Linked DNA regions of Homo sapiens. The protein of the gene in region 1 interacts with the protein of each later gene in a pairwise test. Each region holds a gene or a part of one and is shown on either strand. Other genes may lie near its edges. The genes, in order: KRTAP5-9, ZBTB24, P2RX4 and SLC25A10.

Evidence for each region.
Region 2: the proteins of KRTAP5-9 (region 1) and ZBTB24 interact in binary tests that used the Homo sapiens proteins (3 or more experiments, as listed by UniProt).
Region 3: the proteins of KRTAP5-9 (region 1) and P2RX4 interact in binary tests that used the Homo sapiens proteins (3 or more experiments, as listed by UniProt).
Region 4: the proteins of KRTAP5-9 (region 1) and SLC25A10 interact in binary tests that used the Homo sapiens proteins (3 or more experiments, as listed by UniProt).

The regions. Positions count from the first base shown.
Region 1 is NC_000011.10:71,544,211-71,550,135, forward strand, and holds KRTAP5-9 (keratin-associated protein 5-9), read left to right. Parts: upstream 1-4,209; 5' UTR 4,210-4,447; coding exon 4,448-4,957; 3' UTR 4,958-5,398; downstream 5,399-5,925.
Region 2 is NC_000006.12:109,473,213-109,480,239, reverse strand, and holds part of ZBTB24 (zinc finger and BTB domain-containing protein 24), read left to right. Parts: intron 1-3,309; coding exon 3,310-3,477; intron 3,478-3,981; coding exon 3,982-4,065; intron 4,066-4,757; coding exon 4,758-4,841; intron 4,842-7,027. UniProt on the Homo sapiens protein: May be involved in BMP2-induced transcription.
Region 3 is NC_000012.12:121,205,193-121,213,149, forward strand, and holds the start of P2RX4 (P2X purinoceptor 4), read left to right. Parts: upstream 1-4,936; 5' UTR 4,937-4,972; coding exon 4,973-5,106; intron 5,107-7,957. UniProt on the Homo sapiens protein: ATP-gated nonselective transmembrane cation channel permeable to potassium, sodium and calcium. CTP, but not GTP or UTP, functions as a weak affinity agonist for P2RX4.
Region 4 is NC_000017.11:81,715,274-81,721,529, forward strand, and holds the end of SLC25A10 (mitochondrial dicarboxylate carrier), read left to right. Parts: intron 1-204; coding exon 205-319; intron 320-419; coding exon 420-468; intron 469-735; coding exon 736-777; intron 778-1,538; coding exon 1,539-1,582; intron 1,583-1,728; coding exon 1,729-1,799; intron 1,800-2,125; coding exon 2,126-2,218; intron 2,219-2,483; coding exon of another isoform or gene 2,484-2,510; coding exon 2,511-2,588; intron 2,589-2,778; coding exon of another isoform or gene 2,779-2,895; exon of another isoform or gene 2,896-3,071; intron 3,072-4,557; coding exon 4,558-4,614; intron 4,615-4,702; coding exon 4,703-4,804; coding exon of another isoform or gene 4,805-5,244; 3' UTR 5,245-5,739; downstream 5,740-6,256. UniProt on the Homo sapiens protein: Catalyzes the electroneutral exchange or flux of physiologically important metabolites such as dicarboxylates (malonate, malate, succinate), inorganic sulfur-containing anions, and phosphate, across mitochondrial inner membrane.

The DNA.
Region 1 (5,925 bases):
CGAACATGACTGACAAATGGCCCGTGACACAGCCCTCAGGAGGTCCTGAGAGCAGGTGCCCAAGAGGTTTGGGGTGCAGCTTGGTTTTATATATTTTAGGGAGACATGAGACTTTAATCAAATACATTTAAGAAATACTAAGGCCTAAACTCTGTTGTTGTTTTTTTTAATCTTGCTCAAATTCCTATCTAAGGGGTCTGCGCATGCCCTACAAATCATAAACTCTCAACAGACAGGTTTTGTTTAGCCCTAAATATTGTGACTTACTTTCCAACCCGACTCTGGCATAACATTATGAGACAAGGAAGAAAATCAAAATACTTTACCCCAAAACATGTTTCTTTGCTGTATTTTGAAATGGCCCTGCAGAGCGTCCTTTGTGGGGGAAAATTTGGATCTGCAAAGAATCTCTATTAACATAGCTAGATCTTTTTCTTCCAGACCCTCCCAGTCCTAAAGAGATTAACTAAGGTCTGAATAGGAAACATTTGTCATCTATTGTCTCTAAGGGCAGCCACTATCAGACTTCAAAAGAACTTTGGTCTCCACAATCTTTATCTTAACTTGAACTTTCCCTTCCTATCCATCCCAGGTCTTTAGACAAACTCAACCAACCGTGAACCAGAAAATGTTTAAATTTACCTATAGCCTGGAACCCCCTCACCCCCCATCCCCCACCACCCGCTTTGAGTTGTCCCGCCTTTCTGGACCAAACCAATGTAATTTTGAAATGTATTTGATTGATGTCTCCTGCCTCCCTAAAATGTGTAAAACCAAGCTGTACCATGACCACCTTGGGCCCATGTTCTCAGGACCTCCTGAGGGTTGTGTCTCAGGCCATGGTCACTCATATTGGGCCCAGAATAAATCTCTCTTCAAATATTTTACAGAGTTTGACTCTTTTTGTCGACATTACATTGGTTTGGTCCAGAAAAGTGGGACAACTTGAAGGGTGGGGAGTGCTTCCAGGCTATAGGTAGATGTAAAAATTTTCCGGTTGACAGTTGGTTGAGCTTGTCTAAAGACCTGGGATCAACAGAAAGGAATGTCTGGGTTAGGATAAAGGATCATGGAGACCCAGGTTGTTATTTGCAGAGGAAGCCTTTAGGTAGCAGGCTTCAGAGAGAAGAGGTTGTGAGACGTTTGTTATCGGACTTAAAGTCTGTGTGGATGTTAATGCCAGAGAGGTAGAATGAGGCATGTCTGACCCCCACTGCCCATCATAGTGTCTCAGGTTAAATTTTAAAACAGCCCTGGCTGAGGAGGAAGTCCATTCAGATGGTCGGGGAGGAGGTCTTAGAATGTTATGTTTGGTTAACCGGGAAACCTTGGAAGCTGAGTTCCTGGCTACGGGGGGATGGGAAGCTGGACTTGCGCCCTTCTCCTACTCCCTGGCCAGCCATGACCCAGCTCCCTCCCCTCAGGGAAAACAGAAACCAATTCTGTGGAGACTGCACTGAGGAGATCAGTGTACCCCTGACATTGCCCCCTCCTTCTTGATAGGAGATCCACCACGGAGAGGCCCTGGCCATTCTACGGAAGAGGCGCAAGGAAGTCTTCTGAGTCCGCTGCTTCACCTTTTGACATCAGAGGGCCAAAAGCTCCACCCTCAGATCAGGCTAACACCTCTGGTTTTTGCACATAGAGAGGGGGTGAAGCTGGATTGCGCATATGCCTGGTTTTGGGTCTGCAGTTGGTTCCTGCTGGTGGGTTCGTGGTCTCGCTGACTTCAAGAATGCACCCATGGACTTTCACGGACCTTCGCAGTGAGTGTTACAGCTCTTAAAGATGGCACAGACCCAAAGAGTCAGTGGCAGCAAGGTTTATTGTTTATTCGCGAAAGGACAAAGCTTCCACAGCGTGGAAGTAGACCCGAGTGGGTTGCCGCTGCTGGCTGTGTGGCCAGCTTTTATTCCCCTATTGGCCCCGCCCATGTTCCGTTTCTGTCCTATCAGAGTGCCTTTTTTTCAATCCTCCCTGCGATTGGCTACTTTCAGAATCCTGTGCAGATTGGTGTGTTTTACAATCCTCTTGCAAGACAGGAAAGTTCCTGATTGGTGCATTTTACAATCCTCTTGTAAGACAGAAAAGTTCCCCAAGTCCCCACGGGACCCAAGAAGTCCAGCTGGCCTCATGTCTCAGTTTCTCCTCTTATCAATATTCATGTCCCTCCCACAGCTTATTGAATATGCATATTCAGCCACCCCCACTCAGTGTAGATCTCTGCTTTATTCTTCCCTCCCTCCAAGTGTCTGTTTCCAGCTTCCTACCAGAGGCTGCGCCTCCCAACCAGTCAGAACAGCCACACTCAGCCCGCAGCACTTTATGAGAAGTAAAGCGCTCCTTTCCAAATTGACGACCTCGTCCTTCTTCAGTTAACACCTCCCTCTCTCAATGACGATGATGGAGCATGTCCAGGTGTTGGTGACACAGCTACATGGCTGCGTGTGGGATAAAGTCGCTGCCCCTTCAGAACTCACACCCCCCTGGAGTGGGACACACACCTCTAAGAACAAACAAGGATGAGAGCAGAGCCAGCTTGGCATCGTGGGAATCAATAAATGAAACAGAAAGTGCAAGGTGGTGGGGGTAGCTATCTCGGGACGGGGTGTCAGAGGTGGATCTGAGTTGGGCAGACAGGAGGGACGCAGTCCAGGGCGGTCCTGGGTGAGTCTGTTCCATGTAAGGAACTGCCAGCACACAGGTCGTAAGGAGGAGTGCGGTGTGGCCCCGGCACCAATCCAGGGCTGGATGAAGAATGATTGAGGCAGTCTGAAGATGACACCAAGTCATTCTCCTCCCACGGAGAGGTGGACTTTCTCTTCTCTCTGCAATCTGGGCTGGCCTCAGTGACTTGAGGAGGGAGAAATACTCTAGGATTCCTAGGCTGGGTCATAAGGCACCTTCTAGCCTCTGCTCGAGTGACCTCCTAGGAAGTACAGCTGCCCTGAGCCCACCATGCTGTGAGGAAGCCCAAGCCAGCCGTGGGAAGAGGCCGTGAGGTGGGGGAGGGGAGGGAGATCTGTCCGGCCTCACCTGTTGTAGCCATCCCATAGGTGTGTGAACACAGCATCTTGGACAAGCCAGCCCCAGCTGACATAATTTACAGAAAAACCAAGGAACCCTGCAGACAGCCGGAACTGAGGTCCCAAAATACAGCCCAGCCAAGCCATGCTGCCATCGTTAGCCATTGGTACCTTCCCAATTGAGACCCCACAAATCATGCGGCCTGTGCCACCATCCAGTGCCGGATCTGAACTACTGATCCACTGAGCTTTGGGCTGATTGGTTCTGCAACGATGGGTGGCCAAGGCCACGGTCAAATCCAGCTGGAGAGGTGGATGGGGCCAGTGTCAGGGGTTTGGATTTCACCCCAAGTCAGCTGAGGCACACTGGAATGTCGTAAGCCTGCACATCCACTCATCACACATTTTAACCGCATCTGAGTGTGGACCGTACCGATGGGTTCCTGCACCTGCAGCCTCCACACCATTGCTGGTGCCCTGCCTCCTAGCTGGAGTATCCTTCCTGTCTCTTGGCTGCTCTTTGTACCCATCATGGTCCCCCTACCACCCTCCAAGTTCTGCTCCAAGCTTTGTTTTCCTCCAAGAGAAGAACCTGTCCAGACAATAGTTTCAAAGCAGCGGGAAGCTCTGCTCACGTGTCCCCAAGGACCATGCTGTGTGAAATTCCCTTCTGTAATCACAGAGCCCATTGCCCTGGCCTATTCCTGGTCCAGGAATAGGGAGGAGGTAGACAGAGGATGCCTCCTTCCCCACTGCTGAGAACCCTGCCATCCTCAGCCACAGTTGCCACAGAGAAGATACCACATCCCTGGGGGAATCAGCAGGAATCAGGTAGAGAGTGGCACTGCTCTGGGGAGGGAGGGCGTCTCACAGCATCAAACGTCAAAAACCCACAACATTGACCCAGTCCTGCCAAGACGGAACCCTGCATGAGCATGGGGGATGGGGAGTTGGGGTGTTGCAAAAGACGCAATACATGAATGATCTCAGGTAATTCTCAGGCAACCCCCGGAGGCTGGTGTTGCTAGCACCCCTCTGCAGGAGAAGAAGCTGGGGCTCGGGAGCTGACTGGATCTGCTCAAAGGCCCAGGAAGAATAAGAGTTAGGAACTGGGACAGACCTTGAGGAAGCTGCACTTCCTCCTGAGGTGAGCCAGCGTTGGAGCTGTTTTTCCTTTCAGTATGAATTCCACAAGGAAATCATCTCAGGAGGAAGGGCTCATACTTGGATCCAGAAAATATCAACATAGCCAAAGAAAAACAATCAAGACATACCTCCAGGAGCTGTGTAACAGCAACCGGAAAGAGAAACAATGGTGTGTTCCTATGTGGGATATAAAGAGCCGGGGCTCAGGGGGCTCCACACCTGCACCTCCTTCTCACCTGCTCCTCTACCTGCTCCACCCTCAATCCACCAGAACCATGGGCTGCTGTGGCTGCTCCGGAGGCTGTGGCTCCAGCTGTGGAGGCTGTGACTCCAGCTGTGGGAGCTGTGGCTCTGGCTGCAGGGGCTGTGGCCCCAGCTGCTGTGCACCCGTCTACTGCTGCAAGCCCGTGTGCTGCTGTGTTCCAGCCTGTTCCTGCTCTAGCTGTGGCAAGCGGGGCTGTGGCTCCTGTGGGGGCTCCAAGGGAGGCTGTGGTTCTTGTGGCTGCTCCCAGTGCAGTTGCTGCAAGCCCTGCTGTTGCTCTTCAGGCTGTGGGTCATCCTGCTGCCAGTGCAGCTGCTGCAAGCCCTACTGCTCCCAGTGCAGCTGCTGTAAGCCCTGTTGCTCCTCCTCGGGTCGTGGGTCATCCTGCTGCCAATCCAGCTGCTGCAAGCCCTGCTGCTCATCCTCAGGCTGTGGGTCATCCTGCTGCCAGTCCAGCTGCTGCAAGCCCTGCTGCTCCCAGTCCAGATGCTGTGTCCCTGTGTGCTACCAGTGCAAGATCTGAGGCTCTAGTGGGAAACCTCAGGTAGCTCCTGAAGATCTGTGCTTTCCAACAAGTGACTACCCTTGAAGCACATCCCCTTCTGGATCTGAAAAGAGCCCTTGGCTCAGGGCGTCTTTTTCCAGCCCCTGAGGAAATGGAATGAACCACTCCCTGCCCATTCCCTATAAGAATATCCCAAGACCCAGGCAATTTTGCCCCTCTTTCCCACATGCCCCCATATGTCTGAGCCAAACTGCACTGGGGGCTGCCCTCATGCCAAGCAAGAGCCTGGAATTCCCCTTCTTGATAATTCCATGGGAGACAGCAAACCCTTCTTTCCTTTGCCTGCCAGGAGCTTCACGACATTTGCAGATGGATGTCCTGCAACCCAAATGATCACATGTATCTATGGAAATCCAAAATGCATCTGGGTGCAGCACTAAATAAATTCTCCATCCCTCAGCCTTGGTCTCACTGACTCTTTTCTTCCAGCCTCTGTCTCATTGGCAAACTGGCCACATGTCCTTCCCCTCCTCCCTGATAGCTTATTGCTCCCACTGCTGTAACAGTGTGCCAGGCCCAGCTCCCATTCCAGAAACAGTTGTTGAACTGATTAATGAAGGAACCACTAGCAGTATGTATGAATGAATGAAGACGAGGAATGAATGAGTGAATGAGTGAGTATCTCTCATTAGTACACAGGGAGTCCCAGCTGTATCTCAGTGGGATTCAGTCTGTCTTGGTTGGAATTTGGACTCCTACTTCTTCCCCATGGGAGGATATGTTTGGGAGAGAAGGAGAACTTTGCCCTCAGTGCCTAGGAAGGGATGTAATGGGTGCTCTCTGGGTCCAGCCAGTCCCCAGTTTGTGGGTCAAGCCAGGAGATGGGGAAGCGAGACTAGAATGAGCTGTGTCCCTGAGATGCTCTGTAGGACAACACTGGAAACTGTGCTGCTTCAAGGATCCAAGACGGTGTGGCTGAACACAGG
Region 2 (7,027 bases), on another chromosome or scaffold:
AACTTAATTGTAATCTTAAGTATAGGGACTGGGGCTTAAGTCTTCTCCTGTGATCCAGCAGTATCTGGTGCTGTGGTTCTCAGCCTGCAAATTGGAATCACTTAGGGAGCTTCTAAAACTACCAGTGCCTAGACCTCCACCCCAGAGCTTCTGATTTAGTTGTCTGGAGCCTTGGTGCTTTTAAAAGCTCCCTAAAGACTTTAGCTACAGATAGGTTGAAGAGCTTGAATTCAGGTACTTCGAACAAAGTGGATACTTGAGAAATATTTGTTGAACTGTAATAGGTTATATTTTAGCTTTTTTTTTTTTTTTTTTTTTTTTTTTGAGATGGATTCTCGCTCTGTCACCCAGGCTAGAGTGCAGTGGCGCGATCTCGGCTCACCGCAACCTCCGCCTCCCGAGTTCAAGTGATTCTCCTGCCTCAGCCTCCTGAGTAGCTGGGATTACAGGCACACGCCACCACGCCCAGCTAATTTTTTGTATTTTTAGTAGAGACGGGGTTTCACCATGTTGGTCAGGCTGGTCTCAAACTCCTGACCTCGTGATCTGCCTGCCTCAGCCTCCCAAAGTGCTGGGATTACAGGCGTGCGCCACTGCGCCCAGCTGGCTATTTTTATCAAAAATTTTATGTGCATAGTTTAGAGTTAAATCATTATACAAGACTTAAGAAAAAGCATGTAGGATCGTTCTTCCCTTATGTCCTCAGTACAGACAGTCCCCGACTCACAATGGTTCAATTCATCTTTACAATAGTGTGAAAGCAGTACATGTTCAACAGAAACTGTACTTTGAATTCTGAGTTTTGATCTTTTCCCGGTCTAGTAATATTCAGTATGATCCTCTCATGCCATGCCGGGCCACACAGTCACGTGGGTAAATGACCAGTACTCTGCATTTGGTGCATTCATACAGTACTCTGTATAAGTGCATTTTTCCTTATGATATTTTCAGTATGATGGGTTTGTTAGATGTAGTCCCATCATAAGTCAGGAAGCATCTGTATTCTGAATTTTGCAGCCCATCACTTTAGTATGGGTCTGTTTTCTTCCATCTGGGTAGATAACAGGTAGATTCATAAGGTTTGGAAACTGTCTTTCAGTTCTGGAAAATCTTGAGTTATTTCATAGATGATTTCTCCTCTCTGTTTTCTCTGTTCTCTCTAACTTTATTTTCTCTTATATTTTCCATCATTTTTGGCCCCACCCTCTGGGGGATTTCCACTTTGTTTTTCAGCCCTTTGAGGTTTTCTGTTTCAACTCTTATTTTTTTCCCCCTTTAGGAGCTCTTTTTTTTCTAAATGTTTTAATTTGAATGATCTTTTTATTTCACAATGTATTATCTTACCTCTATGAGCATGTTAATGATAACAACATTTTCCTCACTGGAGGCAAGTTGCTTTTTTTTTTCTTCTTGCTTGTTTGTCTGTCACTATTACAAAAGGCTCTCCTTGAGTGCCTGGTGTTTTTTTTTTAAATCATATGTAAGGGTGGGTTGCTAAAAGCTACTGGCAATGCTGCATGTGTGGAGAGAGCCTGTATTTTATTTATTTCTTAGGCTGTTGCCCAGGCTGGAGTGCAATGGCGTGATCTCCGATCACCACAACCTCCGCCTCCTGGATTCAAGTGATTCTCCTGCCTCAGCCACCCAAGTAGCTGGGATTACAGGCACGCACCACCATGCCTGGCTAATTTTTTTTGTATGAGAGAGTCTGTAAAACTGTGACCTTGTTCCCAGATCACACTGAGAGTCAGGCTGCTATTTCTCGTGGCCCAATAATGAGATGCAGATGAATTGGAGAGGAAGAGAGTTTTTATTTCTGTAACCAGTTATAGGGAGAAGGCCTGGAAATTATCGCCAGACCAACTCAAAATTACAGAATTTTTCAGAGCTTATATACCGCCTAAGCTGTATGTCTGTCTGTAAGTGTGCATTCCTCTAAAGACGTAGGTGATTAACTTCTTTTAATCTATATCCAAGGTCTGCGTCCCAAAGACCTTCTTCTGGAGCCTCAGTAAGTTTACTTAATCTAAATGGGTCTAGGTGCTGGGGTGATTACCCTTATCTTCTGCTAAATCACGGAGATTTGGGGAGTTCCTTCAGATCCCCAGTAAAACTTGTTTAATCCTAAGTGGGCCCTGTTAAGAATTCCTTCGTTATTTTGTCATGCTTTAAGGCCCAGGAGAAGCCTAGGGGAAACTCTTGGTGGGCTTTTGTTACATTCCAGCCTTTGTTTAAGGGCACTGGCTTTTAATGTTTAACTTAACCACTCAGTCAGTACTGAAACAGTTGTATGGAGGCCTGTCATAACCTCACTGGAGGTGGTGTGGCTGTGCCCCATGTCCTTACTGGTGCCTGGCTTCCACATCTTTGCTCTCTCACCTTGGACCTCTCATGTTCCACTGGAAGACGCTTCTGCTCTCCCACTTGGAGGCACTAGGCCTGGCTGCTGGCCTGTGTCTAGGACAGGATGGGGAAGAAGGAGTGGGGGAGTCTCATCATCCCAGATGGAAATGTTGACTTACTCTCCCTGTGGTGATCCCAACTCAACTGTGCCTAGAAACTCCTAATCCAAAGACCCCTTTTTCTTAACCCTCCTCAGTGAACACTCTCCATTCTCTTTTGGGGGAGGGACAGTCTCCTGGCTGTGTAGAGTGGAAGATTTGATCAGGGGTCTAAGCACCTTTGAAACAGACTTTCATTTACCCTCCCTCACCCCTGTTTCCAGAGATAGCAGGTGCCACCAATTCCTGAGCCTTAGGAGATTGTGTCTTAAAAATTAGGTTGTATTGGGCTGGGTGTGGTGGCTCATGCCTGTACTCCCAGCAATTTGGGAGGCCGAGGCAGGAAGATTGCTTGAGCCCAGGAGTTGGAGACCTGCCTGGGCAACATAGTGAGATCCCATCTCTAAAAAAAATTAAAATTACAATTAAAAAATTAGCTGGGTGTAGTGGTGGCACATGCCTGTGATCCCAGCTACTCAGGAGGCTGAAGTGGGAAGATCATTTGTTCCCAGGAGGTTGAGGCTATAGTCAGCTATGGTAGCGCCACTGCACTCCAGCCTGGGTGATAGAGTGAGACCCTGTTACAAAGGAAAAACAAAAAATTAGGTTATGTTAGTGCTACTCACTGCTGGCTTCAGATTCATCTGTTCAGCTTCCAAAATTTTATTGCTGATGTCTCTTGTGTTCATTGTTGGCCTTTTGGATGTGTGCCTTTTAAGAAAAATCCTTTATTGTTTTTTTAATTTGGGAGAGACAGAAAAATGTGTGGATTCTTACTTATACCATGCTTCTGGGGCTCTTCTTCCAGGGGAGCGACCTTTCAAATGTAATGAGTGTGGAAAAGGCTTTGCCCAGAAGCACTCGCTACAGGTCCACACCAGGATGCACACAGGCGAGCGGCCGTACACCTGCACCGTGTGCAGCAAGGCTCTGACCACCAAGCACTCACTGCTGGAGCACATGAGCCTGCACTCAGGTAGTGGGGCTTGCCCAGAGGGCCAGCTTCACCAGATTCCCATTCCCCAGGGTGGGCATTACCAACACCTAAATGGTGTTTTCTCAGCCTAGTATCATTTCCAACGTGGTGTCATTGAAAGACAGGATTTTGCATCTGTCTGAGTGCAGTTTAGAGTTCTGCACGGATCATTAAACTAGAGCTTATAAACTGGCTGCTGGGAGTTTAGTGTGCAAGCATGTTTTATTAAACCACCAAAGTTTAGAATTGTTTTACTTTGAACGCCTTTCGGGGAAACTTAAATTCTCCAGTTCTACCCCAGTCTCCAGTACTCCCGATTGCCTTACATACCTTTGCACATTTATGTTTCTGTGGTAGATTGAAGGCTTCTGGGTATGTAAACAAGTCGCTTGTATCATTTGTAGAAAATGGGGACCTGGACCCACTGTAGTATTTACCTTATTAGTGAGCATTCCAGTTCTTTATAATTTTTTACATGTTTTAGTGTTTTGGTTTTTTTGGCAGGACAGAAGTCTTTTACCTGTGATCAATGCGGAAAATATTTCAGCCAGAACAGACAGCTAAAGAGCCATTACCGAGTTCATACAGGTACGATAAAGTGAGAACATTTAGATTGGGGGGGAAGAAATGCAAATAAGAATTGTTTCTGAAACATTAGGTTTATATTGTTCTGCTCTTAGCACATATCGTTCACATAGGGTATTTAGGGAAAAGTGCCTTAAGAGTCTAAATTACATGTTTTTATGTTATTGTCCGCCACCATGTGAATTATGTTTTATTTGTATACTACAGTTTTGGTGCCACACACAGAAACCCTACAGAATTGGCATCTTTCAAAAGTGCCACTTGCACAGGGGAGCTTCAGTGAATGGTTGTTAGTGGTGCCTGGGCAGAGACATCATCATCCCATGGCTGTCAGCCCAGGCTTTCTCTCCCCTGGTTCTACCTGTTGTCCTTTTTCTTTCCTGCCAACTGATAAGAAATGAATGTGGGTTACGAGTGTCATTTGAGGTCATTTGTGGCCTCAGTCACACCAATACTTTGAGGAAAAAAGGAGAGACTACATTTAGAATTGGAAGGATCCTAGCTCTCTTGGAGGAGGCAGTGAGTTGAGGTGCTTAGGAAAATATTAACAGTTACCAAATTAATGAAAAAATTTTTGTGGTTAAAGTACTATATTTAAAGTGATTATTTTTCAGGGAAGTGCTTTAACACAAATCACTGAAGAAAAGGCAGGGAGAGCATGTATGCACTGACACTTTTTTTATTGTTGCGACAAGGCCACTCATTACCGGAATGCAAAGACTGCCATCGCAAATTCATGGATGTGTCTCAGCTAAAGAAACATCTGCGAACACACACAGGTAAAACTCCATCTCGTCTGTCCCCCCAGTACACGGGATGTTTTCAGGAGAGTGAAGAATGAAGTTCTCTGAGTGCCCTGCTAAGCCTGTGTTTGGAAATGTTTATTATAAATTGGATGGGAGTTGTGTAAGAAGATAAGTTAAAAGTTGGAAGGCAGAATGTTGTCAGCACTGTCTTTGGGGAAATCACATCTCTTGTAGATGAGCAAAATGGAGATCACTTACTGAGGACTATTCGTATGTCACAATTCATTTAATACCACAGAATAGTGAGTCTGAGTCTGGTTCTATGTTTCACTCTTAATTTACTTCAGCATTGAAGGTGATATCAAGACTTTTTTTTTTTTTTTTTTTTAAAGATAAGGGCTTGTGCTGTCATCCAGGCTAGAGTGTAGTGGCACGATCACAGCTCACCACAGCCTTGACCTCCTGGGCTGAGGTGATCGTCCCACCTCAGCCTCCTGGGTAGCTGGGACCACAGGTGCAAACCACCACACTACCTAATTTTTTATTTTTTAATTTTTGTAGAGATGGGTCCCACTATGTTGCCCAGGCTGGTCTTGAACTCCTGGGCTCAAGCAGTCTTCCTGTCTGAGCCTCCCAAAATGCTGAGATGACAGGCATGAGCCACCATACCCAGCAAGATAAATTTTTTTTTTTTTTTTTGAGACGGAGTCTCGCTCTGTTGCCAGGCTGCAGTGCAGTGGCACGATCTTGGCTCACTGCAACCTCTGCCTCCCGGGTTCAAGTGATTCTCCTGCCTCAGCCTCCCTAGTAGCTGGGACTATAGGTGTGCGCTACCATGCCCAGCTAATTTTTTTTGTATTTTTAGTAGAGATGGGGTTTTACCATGTTGGCCAGGATGGTCTCGATCTCTTGACCTTGTGATCTGCCCACCTTGGCCTCCCAAAGTGCTGGGATTACAGGCGTGAGCCACTGTGCCTGGCCCAAGATTATTTTTTTAGAAAAGACAGCCAAATGTAACAGACACAAATGTAGCATAGACACTGAGAATGTTTCCACTTTCTCCCCTAGAACCAACACTTAAACTTAAGCAGCACCACCTCCAGAAAAATCAGTTTCAGAGATGACGAGGAGGCAGCATTGATTAGGGCAGGTCAGTTTTTTTATGTAAGATCGGAAAATTGGATCTTTTATACCTTTTGTCAAAGAATGTATGTTAAAAATAAGCCTATTCAGTTTTCTAAGAAAAACTTGCCATTACAGGTTATTTAATAATTCTGTTGTCTACTGGAATTATCTAAATAGCAAATTGATTTATGGTGCTTTGGACTTTTTTTTTTTTTTTTTTTGGAGTCACTGTCTCTGTCGCCCAGGCTGTTGTGCAGTGGTGCTATCTTGGCTCACTGTAACCTCTGCCTGCTGGGTTCAAGCAATTCTCCTGCTTCATCCTCCCGAGTAGCTGGAACTACAGGTGCGCACCACCACGCCTGGCTAATTTTTGTGTTTTTTTTTTGTAGAGACAGGGTTTTGGCATGTTAGCCAGGCTGGTCTCGCTCAAACTCCTGGCTCAAGTGATCCACCCTCCCAGCCTCCCAAAGCGCTGGGATTACAGGCGTGAGCCACTGTGCCTGGCCTGGATGTTGTTTTTTAAATACAAGTTTTTCTTCTTAAATTCAGTAAACATCTCATAGGATATGGATTTTAACACATGTACTGAGCACTTACTGGGAACCAGACATTGTTTTAGGCTTTGAGGATACAGCAGTGAATGAGATGGACAGGCCCCTGCCTTAAGGGGCCAACATTCAATAGGGAAGACAGAGTACAGACAAGTATATAACACATTTGGTGTTGTGAGTGCGTTGAAGAATAAAATGCAAGGTAAGGGGGCGGGATGCCGGAAAGAGAGTTGCTCTTTTATGCATGGACTGGTTTGGGAAGGTCTCACAGATGAGGTGGCATCTTGGATGGAGATGAGAATGCAGTGGGGGAGTGAGCCAGCCGGCCATTGAAGATGTCCAGGAGAGAGCATTCTAGGCAGGGGGAGCCCTGGGCACAGGGCCCTCAGGCAGGAATAAATGTTTTTGACAAGCTGGAGACGTGCTGGGAGGAGCATCAAGGCAGCCAGAGAGCTGGGAGTAGGAAGTCATAGTGTAGGTGGATGTTCTCAATTTAGCTGCATGCTTTTTACCACCTGGGAAGCTTTAAAAAAAAGCCTTGTC
Region 3 (7,957 bases), on another chromosome or scaffold:
GAGACAAGGTCAGATGCCAAACATAGCTTTTCTTTTCTTTTTTTTTTTTCTTGATACGGAGTCTCGCTCTGTCACCCAGGCTGGAGTGCAATGGTGCGATCTCGGCTCACTGCAACCTCCCAGGTTCAAGTGATTCTCTTGCCTCAGCCTCCTGAGTAGCTGATTACAGGGATTACAGGCATGCACCACCATGCCTGGCTAATTTTTGTATTTTGAGTAGAGATGGGGTTTCTCCATGTTGCCCAGCCTGGTTTCGAACTCCTGGCCTCAAGTGATCCACCTGCCTCGGCCTCCCAAAGTGCTGGGATGACAGGCGTGAACCACGGAGCCCCGCCCAGAACATATCTTTTTAATTCTCTGGGGAAATCCTAGAAAAGGAATATCTTGGTCCTACGGTAATTTCTATGTTTAACATTTTGAGGAACTGCTGTTTTCCAAAGCAGCTGGCCCATTTTACATTCCCACGAGTAAAAAGCAGCTGGACCATTTTACATTCCCATGAGTAATGTGTGAGGGTTCCAGTTTCTCCACATCCTTGCCAGCTTTTTGATTGTCCATCTTTTTAATTATAACCATGCTAGTGGGGAGGAAATGGTATCTCACTGTGGCTTTGATTTGTATTTCCCTAACGATAATGATATCGAGCATCTTCTTGTGTTTATTGATCTCATGTGTATATCTTCTTTGGAGAAATGTCTATTCAGATATGTTTGCCCATTTTTAAATAGGGTTGTCATGTTATTGGTGAGTTTTAAGAGTTCTTACGATATCTGAAATACTAGATCCTTAACAGATATAGGATATGTGAATATTTTATCATTCTGTGGGTTTTTCCCTTTCTTGATGGTAACTTTGAAGCACGAACTTTTCAGTTTTGACAAAGTAGTCCAATTTATCTATTTTTTTCTTTTGTTGCCTTGCTTTAGGCAACAAAATCTAAATCTAAAAAACCACTGTCTAATCCGAGGTCACAAAGATTTGCCCCTATGTTTTCATCAGAGAGATTTATAATTTTAGCTCTTATATGTATGTCTTTGATCCATTTTTAATTTTCTCTCTTTCCTTATTATTTTTATTATATTATTTTTTTTAAGACAGAGTCTCACTGTGTCACCCAGGCTGGAGGGCAGTGGCACAATATCAGCTCACTGCAGCCTCCGCCTGCTGGGCTCAAGCAATTCTCCTACCTCAACCTCCCAAGTAGCTGGGATTACAGGCATGCACTACCACACCCGGCTAACTTTTGTATTTTTAGTAGAGATGGGGCTTCACCATGTTGGTCAGGCTGGTCTCAAACTCCCGACCTCAAGTGATCCACCTACCTCAACCTCTCAAAGTGCTGGGATTACAGGTGTGAGCCACACCTGGCCAATTTATTTTTTTAAAAATTTTATGTAGCTGGGACTACAACTACAGGTGCGTGCTACCATGCCCAGCTAATTTTTGTACTTTTTGTAGAGATGGGGTTTCACCATGTTGCCCAGGCTGGTCTGGAACTCCTGAGCTCAAGTGAGCCACCCACCTCGGCCCCCCAAAGTGCTGGGATTACAGGTGTGAGCCACCGCATCCCGCCTTCTTATTTATTTTTGAGACAGGGTCTCACTCTGTCACCCAGGCTGGAGTGCAGTGGCACAATTGCAGCTCACTACAACCTTGACCTCCTAAACTCAAGTGATCCTCCTGCCTCAGCCTCCCAAGTAGCTGGGACCACAGGCATGCACCAGCATGGCTGGCTAATTTTTAAAGTATTTATAGAGATGGGGGTCTCCCTATGTTGTCCAGGCTGGTCTCAAACTCCTGGGCTCTAGCAATCCTCCCAACTTAGTCTCTCAAAGTGCTGGGATTACAGGAATGGGCCACCATGTCTGGTCAATAAAGTTATTTTTTAAAAAGAGATAATCCAAGAGCAACAGTGTAAACAAAATAACTTTTCCAAATCATTTTTTAGGATCAGCTTCTTTGGTCAGGCCTAATGATGTTACCAACTAGTAATTTATAAAAACTTGCATTTCTACATTTTTCTTAACTGACCCCATTCCAAAACACAAGCAAACCATCTAAATTCAAGATTTGTGAGGTTGGGACTAACTCATTACTATAGGGTAAGTATGAATGAAGGCTGGAAATGTGTTTTGATTGCTGCCATTATTTTTTATTTTTATTTTTTCTGAGATGGAGTTTCACTCTTGTCGCCCAGGCTGGAGTGCAATGGCGTGATCAGCTCATGGCAACCTCCACCTCCCCGGTTCAAGCAATTCTCCTGCCTCAGCCTCCTGAGTAGCTGAGATTACAGGCATGCGCCACCACGCCCAGCTAATTTTTGTATTTTTAGTAGAGACGGGGTTTCTCCATTGTTGGTCAGGCTGGTCTCGAACTCCCAATGTCAGGTGATCCACCCACCTTGGCCTGCCAAAGTGCTGGGATTAAAGGTGTAAGCCACGTGCCTGGTGTTTTTTGGGGTTTGTTTGTTTGTTTTGAGATGGAGTCTGTCACCCAGGCTGGAGTGCAGTGGCACAATTTCAGCTCACTGCAACCTCCGCCTCCCAGGTTCAAGCAATTCTTCCTGCCTCAGCCTCCCGAGTAGCTGGGATTACAGGCACCTGCCATAAGGCCCAGCTAAGTTTTTTATATTTTCAGTAGAGATGAGGTTTCACCATGTTGGCCAGGCTGGTCTCCAGCTCCTGACCTCACATGATCATCCGCCTGCCTCGGCCTCCCAAAGTGCTGCAGTTATAGGTGTGAGCCACCGTGCCCAGCCATGTTTTGATTCTTAAGGAAATGATTTTTAAGTCCCCTTCCAATGAGGATTTAGCAATGGAGTTTTCTTCTTCTACAGATAATTTGAGGCTTCCCAATTGCACCAAACTCCATTTGGGCAGATACCTCACCTGTCCACTCCATAGCCCTAGCATCAAGAAAAGTGCCAAGCACACAACAGGCACTCAGTAAATTTCTGTCAAATGAATGAATAAAATACCACCACCTTTTCCTGAGACCATTTTGGACCAAGGCTGGCATGGGCATCTCTGTTCCTCCCTCTAACTTAAGAATTCCATCTCTTAGAGGCAGATGCTGCCTGTTTTCTGCAAATTTTATTATTCACCTTTCTATATTTGGAAAAACAAGTTGGTGTGGCTTACTTAGGAATCTCATATCCAGGAAATGAGCTAAAAATGTTGTATCAAAGATTATGCATAGGATCCACAAACTAAGAAGCAAGCAGATGAGAGCGGTTAGAGACATCGTGGTATATTTTCCGGAAGAAATGGTCCATGGATTAAAAATTGTCATTATGATGAGTCTGCAGTAACACAGAAACCACGTAGTGCGAATCAGAAAATGAAAAGCACAGCCATTGACTATGATTACAAACCAAAACTTTATACCAATTACCTGTTGGAATTTATGCTGCATGAAGGCAGGATATTTTGCTTGTCCTGTTCACTGGACAGTACTTGGCATAAAGGATGTGCTTATGAATATTTTCTGGGAAACTAAATATAACATTCACCTGTGAAAACACATCTGGGCCAGGCGCAGTGGCTCACGCCTGTAATCCCAACACTTTGGGAGCCCGAGGCGGGTGGATCATGGGAGGTCAGGAGCTGGAGATCAGCCTGGCCAACATGGTGAAAACCTGTCTCTAATAAAAATACAAAAATTAGCTGGGCGTGGTGGCGGGCACTTGTAATCCCAGCTACTCAAGAGGCTGAGGCAGGAGAATTGCTTGAACCTGGGAGGCGGAGGTTACAGTGAGCCGAGATCGCGCCACTGCACTCCAGACTGGACAAGAGTGAAACTCCGTCTCAAAAAAAAAAAGAAAAAGAAAAAGAAAAAACGTATCTGAAGGGAATGAACAAATACACATGCGGAAAATTGTATTCATGGGGTAGAACGGTGGCTGTTTCCCCCCCTTTCACTATTTTCTCTCCTAAAGTTGTGATAGCATTTTCTCAGTGGAAAGGATGACCACAGAATTATCTCCCCTGGGCTGCAACTAAGGAAGTATTTGGAGTGAGAATGCGACCAGGCTTCAAATCCAGGAGGGGTATTTTACAGGGCGTGTGGCTCTCACCCAGGGCTCACAGGACACCTGATATTTAGGCTGTTCCCCAAGAGGCTAAGGACAGCGCGGCCCCAGCTCCCCCAACCACAGCTGCCCAAGTTTAGGAGCCCGCACTCGTGAGCGATGGCTACTCCGCACAGCCCCGGGGTCCTCTACGGAAATCCCTGGCACCTATCAGTACCCCTAAGGGAGGTCGCTCGTTACCCCTCACTTGAACTCTGTCCCAAATGGGAGGTCACTCTCTCTTCGCGGACCCCATCTTCCCCGAAAGGGTCTCTTGTTCTCTCTGGCCCTCCTGAGAAGGTCATTACTCCCCAACTCGCCTTTTTTGTTGTTTTTTGGTTTCTGGTTTATTGAGGCAGGGTCTCGCTTCATCTCCCAGACTGGAGTGCAGTGGCGCGATCACAGCTCACACGGCAGCCTCTACCTCCTGGGCTCAAGCGATCCTCTCACCTCAGCCTCCCTGGGACTACAGGCGAGCGCCACTACGCCCGCTTTTTTTTTTTTTTTTTTTTTTTTTTTGTATTTTTGATAGAGACGAGGTCTCGCTATGTTGTCCAGGCTGGTCTCTAACTCAAGATTCCTCTCACCTCGGCCTCCGCAAGTGCTGGGATGACAGGTGTGAGCCACCGCCCCCGGCCCCTCGCCCGCCTTTTGAAGGAGCCTTTCGTCCTCAAGGGCGAGGCCACTCCCCCCCCGCGAGTTCCATGCCCCCTAGAGGGTCATCGTTCCCGACGGGGAGGTGGCGCCCTCCCCCGGGCCCCGGGCCCCGACCGCCCGTGCTGCCTCCTTCCGGGCCCTCCTCCGCGATGACGGCGCCGCCAGCAGGCCAGGCGGACTGGGCGGGGCTCCGAGCGGGGACTGGGACCCAGACCGACTAGGGGACTGGGAGCGGGCGGCGCGGCCATGGCGGGCTGCTGCGCCGCGCTGGCGGCCTTCCTGTTCGAGTACGACACGCCGCGCATCGTGCTCATCCGCAGCCGCAAAGTGGGGCTCATGAACCGCGCCGTGCAACTGCTCATCCTGGCCTACGTCATCGGGTGAGCGTGGGGCCGCGCGGGGGGCGCGGCGGGTGCTGCCCTCGCGTCCGCGCCGTGCGGCGGCTCATCCTGGCCTCGGTCACCTGGGCGAGTCCGGGAGCGGCGAGCCGAGGCGGTGACACCTTCCCTGGGCCCCAGCCGCCGCGCCGGGGCCCCGGGGGCGGGAGGCTGCTTGCTGCTGTTTTAAAACCACAGCCTGGGCCAGGCGCGGTGGCGCAAGCCTGTAATCCGAGCACTTTGGGAGCCCGAGGCGGGACCATCGCCTGAGCCCAGGAGTTCGAAACCAATTTGGGCAACATCGTGGGACCCCGTCTCTGCAAAAAATTAAAAATCATCCGGGCCTGGTGGCGCGCGCCTGGGGTCCCAGCTACTCAGGAGGCTGAGGTGGGAGGATCGCTTGAGCCCAAGAGGCTGAGGCTGCAGTGAGCTATGATCACACCACTTAACTCGAGCCTGGGAGACAGTCCGAGACCCGTCTGTTTACAAAATAAATAAAGGCAAAGCCTGGCTAGGCTGTTACCCTCTCCTGCCTGACCCCCCATAGTGCCCCTTGGCTGTAGGGGCTTCGCCCTGAACGTCTCAATCTTCGCTCTCCACTTCCCATCCTGCTGATTTGCTGACAAAACCAAAGCTTGGAATTTCCGCTTGGTTCCTTCTGGGTGGGTGGCTTTTGGTCATTTCTTTTGATCACTATGCGGTGTCACTATGTGGTAGTAGCGAGGTCAGACTGTAGCGAGTGTTTAAAGTTTGCTTCCTTTGTTTTCTGGGCTTGTGGGGCTTTTTGTGGTACCTGCCCTAGCCTAGTCAGTCATTCCCCATGCTGCCCCCTTAGGCTAGAGATGCCCTACCGCCCTCAGGCCTCGCTGAATGTGCCATTGTACTTGAAGGCACCTGTTACTTTTTTAATTTTTTTATTTTTTTGAGACGGAATTTCTCTCTTGTCGCCCGGGCTGGAGTGCAATGGCACGATCTCGGCTCACTGCAACCTCTGCCTCCCGGGTTCAAGCAATTCTCCTGTCTCAGTCTCCTGAGTGGCTGGGATTACAAGTGCCCGCCACCACGCCCGGCCAATTTTTGTATTTTTTAGTAGAGACGGGGTTTCAGGCTGGTCCTGAACTGACCTCAGGTGATCCGCCCACCTCAGCCTCCCAAAATGCTGGGATTACAGGCGTGAGCCCCCACGCGGGGCTGGCACCTGTTACAATTGAATACAACGCGAGAGAGAAGATGATAATTACCTTGCCACCTGGGGCCACTTTAAAGGCTTACCTGGGGTGTTCTGGTGTCTACAGCTGCTGGGCTGACACGTATTGCCTAGTGCAGTGGTCTCCAAACTGCACATTGGAACCATCTGGAAATCTTTGGCTCCCATCCCCAGACCCTTTTTTATTTTTTTGATGGAGTCTCCCTCTGTCGCCCAGGCTGGAGTGCAGTGGTGCAATCTTGGCTCGCTGCAACCTCCACCTCCCTGGTTCAAGCGATTCTCCTGCCTCAGCCTCCTGAGTAGCTGGGATTACAGGCACCCACCACCATGCCCGGCTAATTTTTGTATTTTTAGTAGGGACAGGGTTTCGCCATGTTGGCCAGGCTGGTCTCGAACTCCTGGCCTCAGGTGATCCACCCGCCGCAGCCTCCCAGAGTGCTGGGATTACAGGCGTGAGCCACCGCGCCCAGACGCATCCCCAGACCTTCTGATTTAATTGCTGCAGAGTATGATCGGCTGCCCAGGTGATTCTCATGTTCAGCAACGTTTCGGAACCAATGAACTGTGTTTCCCAAGTTTACCTGATCATGGAAGACTCATCTGAGGAATTGTTTAAAAGTAACAGATCCCCCCGTCTTTGGGGTGAGGTTTGGAATCTTAACACTGCCCAAGGGAAGCCCAAGCAGGTTTGGCTTCCAATATCTGTCAGCAGCAGCAGTAGATACAGACAGTATTCAAGAGGATGGCTTTCCAGGTGCAGACTCAACATCAGAACCACCTGGCCCACACCCAGATTTGGACTCATTGGCTCACACCTGTAGTCCCAGTGCTTTGGGAAGCCAAGGTGGGAGGATTGCTTGAGGCCAGGAGCTCAAGACCAGCCTGGACACAAGACCAGCCTGGACAACATAGCGAGACCCCATCTCTAAGAGAAAAATAAAGTTTAAAATGGTAAATTGTACTGATGGAGCAGTGCAAAAAAAAGAATTTTTTTTTTTTTTTTTTCTGAACACGGTGGCTCATGCCTATAATCTCAGCACTTTGGGAGGCCGAGGCGGGTGGATCACCTGAGGTCAGGAGTTCGAGACCAGCCTGGCCAACATGGTAAAACCCCGTCTCTACTAAAAGTACAAAAAATTAGCCAGGCCTAGTGGCTAATGCCTGTAATCCCGGCTACATGGGAGGCTGAGGCAGGAGAATCGTTTGAATCCAGGAGGCGGAGGTTGCAGTGAGCCCAGATTGCGCCACTGCACTCCAGCCTGGGCAACAAGAGCAAAACTCCATCTCAAATATATATATATATATATATATATATATATATATTTTTTTTTTTTTTTTGGAGACTCACTGCTAGCCAGTTAACTGAACTCACATCCCTGGTTGGACCTGAAGCATTTGGGGGCAGGAGCTCCCCTGCAGCTTTTTGCTTTTGGCGTTTGCTGCTAGTGGGAGGATCAGTGCACATCTACCTTAGGGTACCTGTAAAATTACAACTGCGGAAAATATCCATAGTGGTGTTGCACTGTATGGTAGCCACTAGTAACTTGCACCTGTTGAACACTTAACCGTTCCTACTCTACACTGAGATGTGCTATAACCTTAAAATACACACTGGATTTCAAAGACATAGTACAGAAAAAGAGGCTG
Region 4 (6,256 bases), on another chromosome or scaffold:
AGCTGAGGCCCAGGGAGTGAGAAAGCAGGGTGCAGCTCTAGATTTGTGAACTGGCTCAGCCGCATGCTGGCACAGTGGCCTTGGGAAGGCCCCTCAGGGTCCCTGTGGCCCCTCGGGCTGAGGGGGATCCCTGGCTGGGCCGGGTGGCGAGGCTGAGGGGTGTGGGGCGTGCCCGTCCCTCCAAGCCAGGCCCTTCTCCCCCAGATGACCTACTCCCTGACTCGGTTCGCCATCTACGAGACTGTGCGGGACCGTGTGGCCAAGGGCAGCCAGGGGCCTCTCCCCTTCCACGAGAAGGTGTTGCTGGGCTCCGTCAGCGGTGAGCTGCCGGGCGGGAGGGGGAGGGGCGCGGGGTGGTCAGGTCGGCCGAGGACGCCGTGTGTCAGCACGGCTCATCTCTGGGGTTTGTGTCACCGCAGGTTTAGCTGGAGGCTTCGTGGGGACGCCCGCAGACTTGGTCAACGTCAGGTTGGTGTTCCCCCACCCCACCTGCAAGGCCAGGGGCTTTCTTGTCCCCAGACATGCCAGGGCCTGCCAGGGCTGCTTGCAGGGTGGGGTCAGCCTGGAATAAGCCACTGAGACCCTGGTGTCCTGGGCATAGGAGGGTGGGTGTCCCTGAGCCCCGGCGTGCCCTGTCCTGTGGGCCCCGCTGACCAGCGTGAGCTCCCCTGTGCTGCCAGGGCTGCCCATGCCCCTCGGCCCGCCCGCCCCTCCCGCCACCTGCTTCTGTTTCAGGATGCAGAACGACGTGAAGCTGCCCCAGGGTCAGCGGCGCAAGTGAGTCATGGGCGGCCTTCTCGGGGTGGTTGAGGTGCAGGAGGCTCGGGCGGGAGCGGACCCCTGGCTGCTCTGCCGTGACCCAGCTGAGGCTCCAGCAGGCCGAGGTGCCTGCACGGTCCATGGAGGGTCCTGACGGCTGTTCTGGACTCGGGGGTGTCACTCTGCGCCCCCAGGACCTTTGGGTTCTTCCTGTGGGGAGAGCCTTGTTGGATTGGGGGCTGGGCCTGTTTGCACCCCAGGGTGGTGAGTGCGGAGGCGAACGCCCCAGGCATGGAGAGAGCGCATGCAACAGAAACGCCCGAAGGAGGCGCTGCCTCCCTGCCCAGCTCAGGGCAGCTGTGCCCTCCTGCCACGGCCTGGGGTCTTTCCAGGGCCCGGGGTCCGCTCCAACTGCAGTGTGAGCCACTTCCCCCGCCCCTTCCAAGGACCCCTGGGGAGTTCTGGCTTCTAGCTGTGCACACAGACTGTGTTCCCCCAGGACCCCGGGGGCTGGCGGGCAGGAGGCCTGCATGCTAGGAGCGGTGCCCAGCCAGGGACTCTGTTGGAAACGATGGAACCTCCTCCCTGAGGGCCGGGCGGGGCGGGCGAGGTGGCTGTGGGACGTCAGGACCAGCTTCATGTTCCCAGGGAGAGATCTTCAGGCCCATGAGGCCTCTGCTTCCTCGAGAACCCCCGGCCTGCCTCGGGGCCTGGGAGGACCCTCTGTGGGAGCCGGTGGTCAGGGGGAGTCTCATGTGGTCATTCTGTGTCCCCGGCAGCTACGCCCATGCGCTGGATGGCCTGTACCGCGTAGCTCGTGAAGGTGAGGGGCAGGTGCTGTGCACAGGCAGGGTTCTGGGGGGCAGGCAGGGTGGGCAGCGCTGTAGAAGACTGGGCGCTGAGGGATTTGGGCCAGGTGCCTGGCCTCACCCCTTGCCTCACCCCTTGCCTCACCCCTTCCTTGTGCAGAGGGTCTCAGGAGACTGTTCTCGGGTGCAACCATGGCATCCAGCCGAGGGGCCTTAGTCACTGTGGGCCAGGTAGGCCTCCTGCGTGGGGTGGGTGTGGGCAGTGCCTGTGACCACTGACCTCCATCTTCAGAGGGGCCATAGAACAAGGCACTGGGCGCCAAAACCCTCCTGGGGAGCCACCAGCTGTGACCTTGTGGGGCAGGGTGGGGGGCACGGGTGGGTCAGGGCTGCAGCCTGTGAAGGACCTCGGGCAGGTGCCTCCCCTGTCTGGGCCTCACGGACGGACAGACGGAGCAGGTGCTTGGCCATTGCCAGGTGGTGTCGCCTGGGGCCCTGTGTGCTTTCCCCAAGCTGGGGTCCCCCCTACAGCCCTGACCGCCCTTGTGCCCCTGCAGCTGTCCTGCTACGACCAGGCCAAGCAGCTGGTCCTTAGCACCGGGTACCTCTCTGACAACATCTTCACTCACTTTGTCGCCAGCTTTATTGCAGTAAGTGGCCGGCATGGCTAGGGTGGGCGTCCCTGGGCCGGCCTTGGGCGCTGAGGGCACCCAGGATGGGGCGAGGGCTGGGGGAGGCGGGGGCCTTGGGCATCTGGCAGTGCCCCCTGGGGCTCATAAGTGGGGTGCCAGGGCTTTGGGAGCTCATGGGTCAGCCTGGTGCCCCCGCCAGCATGTTCCTGGCCCGCCCTAGGAGTCAGGTGGAGGTTCTGGCACGTGGGTGGGATTCGGCGATGGTGCCTGGCGTACCTGACAGGCCGCTGGTGACGAGCCCCCTCCTCAGGGTGGATGTGCCACGTTCCTGTGCCAGCCCCTGGATGTGCTGAAGACTCGCCTGATGAACTCCAAGGGGGAGTATCAGGTGAGTGGGGCCCTGCCTGTGCAGTTGGGCTGCACAGCCCAGCGAGTCCCCTCACCTCTCCGGGGGGTGGACACTCGCACTGGGGACCCGGGGAAGGGTGTCCCTCCCTTCTAGTTGCCTGTCTCTGCACAGCACTTGCCTTGGGAGAGGGTTGTGCCTTTGAATGCCTTTGCCTTGTTTTTGTTTTTAGAGAAGACTTCTTGGCCCGGCGCAGTGGCTCATGCCTGTAACCCCAGCACTTTGGGAGCCTGAGGCAGGCAGACTGCTTGAGTCTAGGAGTTCAAGACCAGCCTGGGCAACATACTGAAACCCTGTCTCTACCAAAATTACAAAAATTAGGGGCCAGGTGCGGTGGCTCATGCCTATCATCCCAGCACTTTGGGAGGTCGAGGCAAGCAGATCACCTGAGGTCAGGAGTTCAAGACCAGCCTGGCCAACATGGTGAAACCCCCTCTCTACTAAAAATACAAAAAATTGGCTGGGTGTGGTGGCGTGCGCCTGTAATCCCAGCTACTCGGGAGGCTGAGGCAGGAGAATCGCTTGAACCTGGGAGGCGGAGGTTGCAGTGAGCCGAGATCACACCATTGCACCCCAGCCTGGGCCACAAGAGTGAAACTGTCTCAAAAAAACAAAACAAAACAAAATTGGTCAGGCTTGGTGGTGCATGCCTGTAGTTCCAGCTACACAGGAGGCTGAGGTGGGATAATCCCTTGAGCCCAGGATGTCCAGGCCACAGTGAGCCGAGATTGCACCACTGCATTCCAGCCTGGGTGACAGAGTGAGACTGTCTTAAAACATTTCTTTTCGGCCAGGCACGGTGGCTCACGCCTGTAATCCCAACACTTTGGGAGGCCAAGGCGGGCAGATCACAAGTCAGGAGTTGGAGACCAGCCTGACCAACATGGTGAAACCCCGTCTCTACTAAAAATGCAAAAAAATTAGCTGGGCCTGGTGGCGCACGCCTGTAATCCCAGCTACTCAGGAGGCTGAGGCAGGAGAATTGCTTGAATTCAGGAGGCGGAGGTTGCAGTGAGCCGAGATTGCACCACTGCACTCCAGCCTGGATGACAGAGCGAGACTCTGTCTTAAAAAAACAAAAAACAAAAAAAAACACATTTCTTTTCTTTCTTTTTTTTTTCCCCTCATTGCAACCTCCACCTCCTGGGATCAAGCGATTCTCCTGCCTCAGCCTCCCAAGTAGCTGGGATTACAGGCGCCCGCCACCATGCCCGGCTAATTTTTCATATTTTTAGTAGAGACAGGGTTTCACCATGTCGGCCAGGCTGGTCTTGAACTCCTGACCTCAGGTGATCCGCTTGCCTCGGCCTCCCAAAGTGCTGGGATTACAGGCACGTGCCACCACTCCTGGCTAATTTTTGTATTTTTAGTAGAGACAAGGTTTCGCCATGTTCGCCAGGCTGGTCTTGAACTCCTGGCCTGAAGTGATCTGCCGCCTCAGCCTCCCAAAGTGCTGGGATTACAGGTGTGAGTCACTGTGCCCGGCCAAAAACATTTCTTTCACAGATTAACAGAGGTGGTGCCGTTCATGGCAGTCTGTGCCTCATAGGTGCTCTGGGTCTCCTGTCTTGGGCCCCCGCCAACTCCATGGGGCTTCCACGTTTGCAGAGCCCATAGCTCTGTCCCTTTTCTTCTCCCTGACGCTGCCGTGCTGCATCCCTGATTCTCATGGTTCTGTTCACAGCCCCCTCTGCCCACTGGACCCCGGGCTGCACCCTCGGGCCCTGGTTGTACCGCATGAGCAGGCAGGGTGGCCGTTGACCTGGCTGGTGCCTGCAGACCTGTGGTCACCTGTTACCAGCCAGCAGCCGCCGCTCACACCCACACCCACACCCACACCCCACATTGAGAATGCCCAGGCCACCGTGCCTGGCTGGTGCCTGGGAGGGGATTTTCGTTGCCTTTTGGGTGAGAAGCAGCCTTTTTGATTGTTTCACTGCGTTTTCTGCAGGGCGTTTTCCACTGCGCCGTGGAGACAGCGAAGCTCGGGCCTCTGGCCTTTTACAAGGTGCAGTGGTGGCGGCAGTGGCGGCTTGGGCAATGGGGAGCGGGCCCCTTCGGGCTCTGTGTCTCTCATTTTCCCTGTCTCCCTCCAGGGCCTCGTCCCAGCTGGCATCCGCCTCATCCCCCACACCGTGCTCACTTTTGTGTTTCTGGAACAGCTACGCAAAAACTTTGGCATCAAAGTGCCATCCTGACCAGCCGTGGGAATGGCTGGGCTGCCAGGCCAGACACGCTAGGTTCTTCCAAAGAGTCCCAAGCCCAGCACCTGCTCCTGGGGCCACGACCTCCCTGGCCGTGGCCACCCGTCCTCCGCAGCAGGCCCCTGCTGTCCCCCCACCTGCTGGCTGAGCTCCTCCTGGCCTCGTCCCCTCTCAGCTGTAGCTGCACCACCCCCGCTCTGGCTACCAGGCTCTCCCGGCTGGGCACTGCGTGGCCTTGCCCCTCTCCCGCTGGCAGCTCCTCAGGGGAACAGGGGCTACCAGAGGCTGATTTCTCCCCTCTCCTGGGCCAGGGGAGGGGTATTATCCCTGCCTCCTGCCCCCGATGCCCAAAGCAGCATCTTCCAGCACTTTCCATCGAGGACTTGGGTGGCAGAGTGTGGGTGCAGCCTGGCTGTTGCTCACCCAAGTGCTAGCTCTGCACTTCGTGTCTGCTGAGAGCAACCAGACCTTCCATGTCCTCGGGCAGCTGCAACTCCCCGCGAGACCCCGCAGCTGGGTGGGATGAACAAGCAACGCAGACCACAAGCGAGTGCCTGGGAGGGAGTGGCCCAGGGTGGTTCTGGAGCCATTGTGGGTGAGGGTCGAGGGCCACCGAGGTCCCGCGCACCGCTGCCTGCCCTGCAGTGGCTTTAACAGTTAGTTTTGCCAAAGCCTCTCCACTCACCAGCAGGCGGTCTCTGTCTTCAGGGATTGTGCCTGCGTCCCTCGGGCACCTGGGCCCCCCCGCTTGGCTCCCTGGGGGAATGGCCCAGGCGGGCCGCGGTTCCTCCTTAGGGCCTTCTCCCCGACAAGGAGTCCGACGGGGCGGATGCTGCATCCTCTGCCTCCCTGGTCGCTGGGCTTCACCCCACCTGGGAAGGGCAGTGTGCTCTGTGGGGGCTGCAATCAATAAATGCCGGGAGCTGCCACATCTGTTCCTGCCTGCGCTGCCTGCCCGCTGGCTGCCTTGCTGTCCAGACCAGCAGGACCCCCTGCACCCCCTAAGGAGGACCGGGCCAAGGCCTTTTGGGGAGGAGCCAGGGTCCTCGCTGTGCATTTGGATGAAGGAATTGGGGAAGTAGGAGGAACCAAAACCGGTGTGGGGGGAAGGGAACAAGACGGTGAGGCTGGGGTTGAGGGTCTCAGACACAGGATCTGGCTCTGTCATTCAGACTGGAGTGCAGTGGCACGATCTTGGCTTACTAACCTGGGCCTCCTGGGCTCAAACCAGTCTTCTACCTCAGCCTTCCAAGTAGCTGGTGCTATGGGCGTGCACCATCATACCTGGCTAATTTTTGTATGTTTTTGTAGAGTTGGGGTCTCACAATGTTACCCAGGCTGGTCCCAAACTTCTGAGCTCAGGGGATCTGCCCATTTTGGCCTCCCAAAGATGCCCTTTTTTTTTTTTTTAAGACAGGGTCTTACTGTGTCACTCAGGCTGGAGTG